2 separate regions of the Homo sapiens genome follow, and region 2 is linked to region 1. The links come from fine-mapping of genetic effects on gene expression. A gene starts in region 1. The other region holds a variant in brackets. All regions are shown on one strand. Distances are between the middles of the regions. Region 1 holds the start of PMP2 (peripheral myelin protein 2). Region 2 has its middle 90 kb from the start of ZNF704.

Evidence for each region.
Region 2: its variant is fine-mapped to the expression of PMP2 in tibial nerve (GTEx, PIP 0.94).

The regions. Positions count from the first base shown.
Region 1 is chr8:81,444,977-81,449,382 of GRCh38, forward strand. It overlaps PMP2 (peripheral myelin protein 2), which reads right to left and starts at 2,463. Exons shown (of 4, transcript NM_002677.5): 1 at 2,338-2,463; 2 at 1-13. The coding sequence starts at 2,410.
Region 2 is chr8:80,962,092-80,966,497 of GRCh38, forward strand. No RefSeq gene overlaps it. Among named protein-coding and RNA genes, the nearest start is that of ZNF704, 90 kb to the left of the region's middle. The variant GATTA/G (reference allele first, on the strand shown) is at 2,734.

The sequences.
Region 1 (4,406 bases):
GCTAACCCCACACCTGAAAATTAAGATAGTGTTAGAATTATGTTGACCAAGAGAGCATAGCCAAAGAGACTGTGGTGGCCACATCCTACGCTCAGTGGTGCCCCAGGTGAGTTGATGGCAGGTAATATCACTTACTACTAAGCATCTCCTCCCATGTTTCACTCCTAATGGAAATACATGCCCAGGACTCAAACATTTTAGGTTTTGTTGTTGCAAAAGTAAAGTCTGCAGATTTTCTTTTTTTTTTTTCTTTTTCTTTTCTTTTTGAGACGGAGTCTCGCTCTGTCGTCCTGGTTGGAGTGCAATGGAGCAATCTCGGCTCACTGCAAGCTCCGCCTCCCAGGTTCACTCCATTCTCCTGCCTCAGCCTCCCGAGTAGCTGGGACTACAGGGGCCGCCACCACGCCTGGCTAATTTTTTGTATTTTTAGTAGAGACGGGGTTTCACCGTGTTAGCCAGGATGGTCTCGATCTCCTGACCTCGTGATCTGCCCTCCTCGGCCTTCCAAAGTGCTGGGATTACAGGCGTGAGCCACCGCGCCCGGCCAATGTCTGCAGATTTTCAAGAGTAAAAGTTTCCAGCTGAAATAGCTACTGCAAGTCATCCATTTTTATCACATCCAATCCTATTCCCCATTGAAAATTACTAATTATAGATTTGCATAAATCATTCTAGAGATTTTAGTTTGTATGTACAAATACTATAGATATATTTTAAAGATGAGACTATAGCATATACGTATTGTTCTATGATATTTTCCCTCAATACCATATTATGGATATAGAGAAGTATTCCCCTCATATTTTTGATAGAATTTCACTTCTGAAATTTTGTGGCTTCTATATCTAGCTGGTAGGAAAAAAACTATCCATCTAACTTTGAGATCTATACTATTATAAATGATCATAGAGAAATAAAATATTTTTTAAAAAACTCTTCTACATTTCAAAAATGAAACAAAATTAGACTCTTAAGTTTATTACCATTATTACCAAGACTATAAAATATATGGAAAAGGGAAAATGTAAAATAAAAAATATATGAAAGAAAAACTAATTTTCCAGGAAGTCTCAATGGTTGAATAACTTTTTCCAGTTAAAAAGATCTCAAACTTTTACATACTGAATAAGAAGTTAAGAGTTACAGCCAATAAACTATAAACTATATTCTTTCTTCAAATTCTGATTAATCTTTTGTTATTTTATACAGTTTAGGACAATGTTTCTCAAGTTAAATCATAATCTCTGGGTCAGAGCCTGAGAATTTATATTTACCAAATCCCAAGGTGTTATTTTGCATGCTAAACTGGAAAACAGTGGAATTAGAAAATCCTTCACTGAGACTTTCTTTTATTTGGCTTCTTCCTCAGCTGTAAAGTGAAGTCTTTAAATCTAACCGATCTCACAGTATGAATTGATCCCCATAAGTTCTCTTACTGTTCCAGGCAACAATGACATGACTTTGCTCATTTTATCTAAAATAGAACATTTTATACAGGCTTTCTGAACAGTTAAGTAAAGCTGTAGGCACTTTGACAAGCACAGCAAACTCGGGTCACTGGCATCACTCTTTATTGTATTTATATAGTTCTGAAAATTCCCAAAGACTCTTCATATCTATTGTGTTTATATCGATGGGACATACTCTAGAAATAGTATAAAATAAAGTTGTTGTAACTAATGACTCGGTTTTCCATCTTCACTCACTGCTCCAACTCCAGAAACGTCTGATGTTAGCGAAATTGAGTTTGAATTCACTGCCATAACTCCAGTTCTTTTTCTCTCAGTAACTTCCCTAGACTATGAACACAGTATTTTAGGAAGTATTTTTGTTTTTCAAACTCTCTGTATCTACATGATTGTGTAATAAAGGACAACCTAGAGGTAGAGAGAAAAAACTGTTAGTTTAGCTAAAACTTAAATTTTTAAATTGAGATTTTCTAGGATTTGCAATATATTCAATTCCTTATTTTATGAACACTTCAGTTGCTATGAACGTAGCTCTCAGAAAAGCCAGAAAATGGGTTGACCATGCTTTTAAGCTTTCTCTCCTCTGGACCTGCAACCAAAATTCTCTTGGTATGAAATTGCCCTTGAAATCAGTGGGCATTCCATGCATTTAAGCAGCTCTCTCATTTAAGTTAATTCTATTAAAAATTACCACAAATAAAATTCAAATAAATTATCTGAATGACACAACAAAAGATTAATCCTAAAAGAGGATTGTACTGCAGCCTTGCAAAACTCCCCAGTATCCTGTTAAAAGTAGTAGATGAAAATGTCATGTAGCTTTCTTAAAAAGGAGCTTTTCAGCAGAACAACAAAAAGCATTTCTTACCCAGAGCTTTCATGTAATCGTCAAAGTTCTCACTAGAGACAAGTTTCCAGGTGCCCAGGAATTTGTTGCTCATCGTGATGGGTGAGAGCTCAACACAGTTCTAAGTGGGATTCAGAAGACTCAGATAAAATGCTGAGGCCTCAGAAGATTCTTTTCAAGGATGCCCAAAGCGTGTGACTCTTACAGAGACCCAATGGGGAAAGGCAGTGTCGGGACTAAGCAATGAATGGCTCTTCAATGGCCAGCTGCCCGCCCAATAGGATAAAAGAAAACCCCACATAATACTTCCCTTTGTCTCCAAAAAAATTTATAAAATGAATGAGATTACTATTTGAATCTTCAAAAATTTTTTGATCAATCTTACATTTATAAGAAGGCTTAGGCCCTTCATGCTTTGGAAAAGACTGCATGAATTCTGTGATCATGAATGAATGTGTGTGTGTTTAGGCATGTCGGTCACTCTCAATCCTGAGTCTGCACAATTAAGAATTCTTATTGAAAGGGAAGAAAAAGAGGAAAATGTCTGTAAGTATTATGATAACAGTCTCAAATATGTTGTGGGAGAGAAACGTAGGGGAGCAGTGTGAGGAAGTATTCATAGGTAAGAAGGCTTGGCATAGTTCACATATCCCAGGCAGGCAGAGTAGGCAGACAAAGAAGTCAGTCTATTGCAGCAGAGCACAGAAATTGTATTCATGTGATGAAACAAGAAGTAGCACTATAACATGTTCTTTGAGCACAACAAAGATTTTCAGCTAGAAATACTTAAAGTCTGAACTAAGCAGGTTCCTGGATACTATAACTATTTGTGTTTAAGTCATTTAAAATGAATCTACAATTTTATAAAGAGGATTTTCTATAGAAAGAGTACTAATTTATATTGACAACTCACTATGGGCCAGACACTGTGCTAAGTGCTTAATACGGGTGATCTCATTTAATTATATCACTAATTCCAAGAGTTAGGAACTATTATTATATCCATTTTACCAATGATAAAAATGAGCTTGGGGACATTAGGTAAATTGCTCCCAAAAGTTGAATAAGGAGAGGACAGGTTTGAACCCAGCATTGCTGCCAGTGCCCGGGTTCTGAACCATGATCTTACCCTGCTTCTATTATACTATACCATACATGCTACGTGCACGGAGGCCCTGGCCAGAGATCACCTGATGCTGATAGCACCACGATTAGCTAGAAACACTCTCTCTCTTCTCAAAAATCAAGAGAGGTAAAAAATCAAAAGATCCAGCCTACTATATTACATCAAAGCCCCAGTCTTTGGCCAAGGGGAACAAACGTAAATCCACTTAGAACATAAGTGTTGCTCTTGAGAATCTCTGATTACTGCTATATCTTTCCTAGCAGGTTTTTTGTTTGTTTGTTTTTGTTGTTGTTTGTTTGTTGTTTGTTTTTACCTTAGCATTAATTCTGGCTGGAGACAACTGATATTACCAAGTTTTATACATTTAGTAAACAGGTTGGCACTGTTTACAACAACAAAAATATGATGAATTTGCTCATAACAGGTAGAATTACTAGCAAGAAGGGCTCAAGAAACCCAGTCGCATAGCTGTGACATAACTATTGCAGTTACATAGTTAGAGTTCAAGCTGAGTAAAACACGTGAAATCATATACAGTGGGCTGAAGTTTCATTTACAATCCCAGTGCCTGAATAGCTCAAGGTGGGAAAGAAATGGTGAATAGGAAAATTCCTCAGCTAACCAACTAACCCAATCCTAAACCCAAGAGAATGTAACTGGAGGGAGTACATTGTACTGGGATAGAAAAAACAACTGTGAAAGAAAAAGCTTTTGATTAGTGGATATGTTATTTTATTTTCCAAAACACTTTACAGAAATGATGATATCACTTGTACCTTCAAAACTTTTTTTTTTTTGTTAGCTGTACACTATTAAGGAGTACAGCATTCAACATTTAGGTTTTCTGCCTAAATAAATGAAGGACTCCCAAACCCTCACACTAGAGCTGAGACCTTGTATTCAGTGGGACTGCTACAAGAAAGCTGTGTGAATTTTAAGCTGACTCTGTGTTGCACATAGGAAC
Region 2 (4,406 bases), 480 kb before region 1:
TAATTATGTTTCAGTGGGAACTCCATAGTTTTTCAACTTATTATAATTGGGGAGTTTACATTCCCCTGATAAAAGAAAAACTTCAGCTGAATTAAATTTAAAAGAGTTTAATTGAGCAATGAACGATTCGTGAATCGGGCAGCCCCCAGAATCACAGCAGATTCACAGAAACTCCAGGGGTGCCTCATGGTCAGAACACATTTATAGACAAAAAAGGTAAAATGGCGTACAGGAATCAGAAATGAGGTACAGAAACAGTGAAATTAGTTACAGCTCGGCGTTTGCCTTCTTTGAACGCAGTTTGAACATTCAGCAGTCTATGAGTGGTTGAAGTATGGCAGCTGGGATTGGCCAGCGCTCAGCCATTGTAACAGGTGCATACTACTAAGCTGGGTTTTCAATTTTGTCTGACTATTAGGCTAAGTTACAGTTCATCCACAAGGACTCAAATATAGAGTACAGAGTCCTTCTCAGGCCATATTTAGTTTGCTTGAACACTGCCATCATGATATTGCAAAATATTTTTTACCAAGAAGCTCAAAGCAATATTATTGAATAGTTATGAAATCAATTGAAAATAGGTAAATATTCTATAACTAGTTGTAGAAATGGAAAGATGTACATTCTGAGTCCAATCTGAAATCACTGCCTACCTCTCTTCAACCTTCTCCTTCTATATCTGTAGTTCATTAATATCATCATCTTCTATCCAGAGACCCAAGAGTTGTCTTTTCATCTCTATGCCCCTAATTCTGTACATCTTATGAGTAGCCAGATCCCTTTGTTACACCACCTACTGATGTCTAAAATTAGCATTTTTTCTCCCCATTTCCTCTGCCCTGGTCAAGCCTTCATTGGCCCATCTGAACTGATCTCCCAGCCTCTGATCTCAGCATCCCCCCTTGCGAACTTCAAGTGCCTCGGATGCAAGCCCCTTAACTCCTTGCCATCATATGTACAAATGTTGCCTGCATCGCCTACAAGGCTGTGAGTTCCAGAGGGGTTGGCGGGGGGGGTCTGTCTGATCCACCTTTGTGTCATCAGTACAATGCCTGGTAGGTTGGCTGTGAGTAAACCTACATGCTATTCATCTATCTGTTTATCCACCATCCATCCCTTCAACATATATTAATGAGGCCCTATTATGGGCAGGCACACTTGTAGGTAAATGAGAATATGGAAGTAAACAAAATAGATATTGCTGTCCTTAGATATGTTGCTTCTTACACTGATGCATACACTTAAACCTTTATAAAGACATTTTATAAATTTATGGAGTCAAACAGATCAGTGTTTTCCTCTATGATTTGTGCTTTTGTGCATTGCATATTTCAGTTCTAAACCATACATAATAAAGCCATAATAAATATCTCCCACAGCAGAATTTTAAGAACTCAGGCTTGGAAATAAAATTACCTGAGTTCAAATCTCATCTTTGCCACTAAAATCTGGACAAATTTGTTAACTATTCTATGCTTCAGTGTGATATCATTGATTACCATGAGAATAATTATTTAACTCATTAAAGTTGTTTTGAAGATTAAATGAGCTAATACAGTGAGATGCCTGTAGAATGGTAACTCATAAATAGTAAGCTTATATTATTGTAGCTAGTATGTTTGTTTCTTATTATTCTCTCTTTCGTCCATCTGAAGTTTATTTTCATTTATGGTGTAAGTTGGGAATTCAATTTTATGTTCTTTTTTGTTATTTTCTTTTCGTATGTGTTTTGTTTTGAGACAGGGTCTTGCTCTGTTCTCCAGGCTGGAGTGCGGTGACAGAATCATAGCTCATTGCAGCCTCAACTTCCTGGGCTCAAGTGATTCTTCTACCTCAGCCTCCCAAGTAGCTGGGATTACAGGTGTGTGCCACCATGCCCAGCTAATTTTTTAAAAATGATTTTTGTACACAGTGTCTCACTGTGTTGCCCAAGCTGGTCTGAAACTCCTGGCCTCAAGTATTATGTTATGTTTCATATGGAAAACCAATTTTTGCCAAACTTCTGTTTAAAATCTTTCAGTGGCCTCTATTTGCTCCTAATATCACAGTACAATTCTTTTTTTTTTCTTTTTTTTTTTTTTTGAGATGGAGTCTTGCTGTGTCACCCAGGCTGGAGTACAGTGGCGTGATCTCGGCTCACTGCAACCTCTGCCTCCTGGGTTCAAGCCATTCTCCGGCCTCAGCCTCCACAGTAGCTGGGACTACAGGCGTGCACCACCACGCTGGCTAATTTTTGTACTTTTGGTAGAGACGGGGTTTTGCCATGTTGGCCAGGCTGGTCTCAAACTCCTGACATCAAGTGATCCGGCCGTCTCAGCCTCCCAAACTGCTGGGATTACAGGCATGAGCTACTGTGCCTGGGCTATCACAGTATAATTCTTGATTTGATCTACTCTGCTCTGTGGAATCTGGACCCTGCCTCTCTCTCATATTTCCCTTTTTTGTGACTCTATCTGTGGTTCAGATACCCTGCCTTCTTTTGTGGTCCAGGAACATACCAGTGTCTTTTCCTCCCTGGGGCCTTTGCACTTGCTATTTTCTCTTCTTGGAATGTTTTTCTCCCCAAGTTTTATACTGATGCCCCAAGTCATTCAGGCCTTCCCTGACCACCCAGTAGAAAAGGTATCATTCTTCCTGCCCTAACAAACCAAGGCAGTCTCTATTTTATCATCATTTCATTAACTTTATTCCATTTTGTTTTACTCATCACATTTCGGATCTGAAATTTGGTTT[GATTA/G]ATTATTTTTCTTCCCCTGCTAGAATGTAAGCTTCATTGGAACAGAAACCATTAGCTGTTTTATTTATTGCTGTATCCCCAACATCTAGAACAGTGCCCGGGAAATAGTAGATAATAATTAGTGATTAGTCTGTACTTTTCTCCTGATCCAAACAGGCTTGCTTTCTAGATGGATAATACTGGCAACAGTACGGAAGGTTGATTTGAGGTGCTACAGAGTGACTTAGGATGGGGACTGGCTGGACAAGGGCAGGAATGGTGGAGAAGGAGACATGCCGGAGGCCTGGCAAGCTGGCCCGTTATTGATTTATGTGTGCTTGTGTGAGAAGATCAAGGTTTTCCTGGCTTGGAGCCCTGGCGTTGGCTGTGCACCATGCCTGGAATTTCTTTCACTGGCTTATTATTTCAGTCTCACATTAAATGTAACCTGCTCATAGAGGCCTTTCTGGAGGCCTCTCTGTAAAGTGGATCTCCAGAGACTTGGTACAATCAGTGGAGACATTGAGATGCTGAATACCCTGAGAATTTAAACGTGTATGTCAAACATTTAAAGGTAGGCACTAAGGCCATTAGAATGTGAGCTCCAATGAGGCAGGAGTTCTGTCTCTTCTCTCTCACCCTGTTTCAGCTCCTGGCACATAGTAAATACTCAGCAAATATTTATGGAATGAATCAATATTTGGTTTTCCTGTGGCTTGTTTTGTTTTCCTGTTAACTTTGCTTTTCTACTTTGATGTTGCGATGATTAATTTTTTTTCCTTTGGGCCTAAACATTTAAAGCTGTTGCTTTGAATGACGTGTCTGTTTTAGAAGACACTCTGCCAGATTGTGGTGCTGTTTATCTGCATGTCAGATGTCTGCCTTCTTCCCCGTGCCACTGCTTTTTGGGCTGGTTTGACTTGGAGGATATCCCTATCTTGTTACCCTGGCATCTCTTCAGAAATTCACAGTCACAGAGAAGCTTTCGGTGGGGGAAGAGTTCAAGTATGAAATCCTAAGATTCGTAGGCACTAGTTCAAGACAGGCTTGTAAGATTATGGATGATAGAAAGGTAGGAGAATTCAAATCAAACCAAACATTTATTTAGTGCTTGCTGTGTGCAGGAAATTGTAGTGTATGCTACGGGGAATATTTCAAAGTTAATGTGCCCTGAAGAGCAAACAAGGCAGCTCGGAAAGATGATTCCACTCCAGAACAACCACATTTACATTGGGACATACCGAGGGAGACATTGTGGAAACAGATGTGATGCCTGGGAGACAGCTGGCTTTGGAGTGCCGAGGTCCAGCCTTGAGATTTTAAGAATCATCTAGGATGGGAGCAAACATTCAAAATGGCGACCTCAAAAGTACAGTAAGGTCCTGGATAACTCTTCAAAACTGAAAAAAATCGTATTGCAGATTGTATTCACAGAGGTAGAAAGATGGACCCAAGGAGAAACATTTAAAAAAAAAATGATAAAGTCTGGACTGTTTGGCTCACCTTAACTAGGGTATCAGAATTCTCCAGTCCTCTTAATGAGCACTTGGTAAATGTCTACGTCCTAGAATCGGCAGTACACCCACCTCTGACAGAAGAGGCGAGTGCTCCATTCTACAGGTGACAGGGAACCTTCGAAACTGCTGAGCTCTGGAGCTTCCATTTCCCCAGACAGCCCAGGTGGGAAACC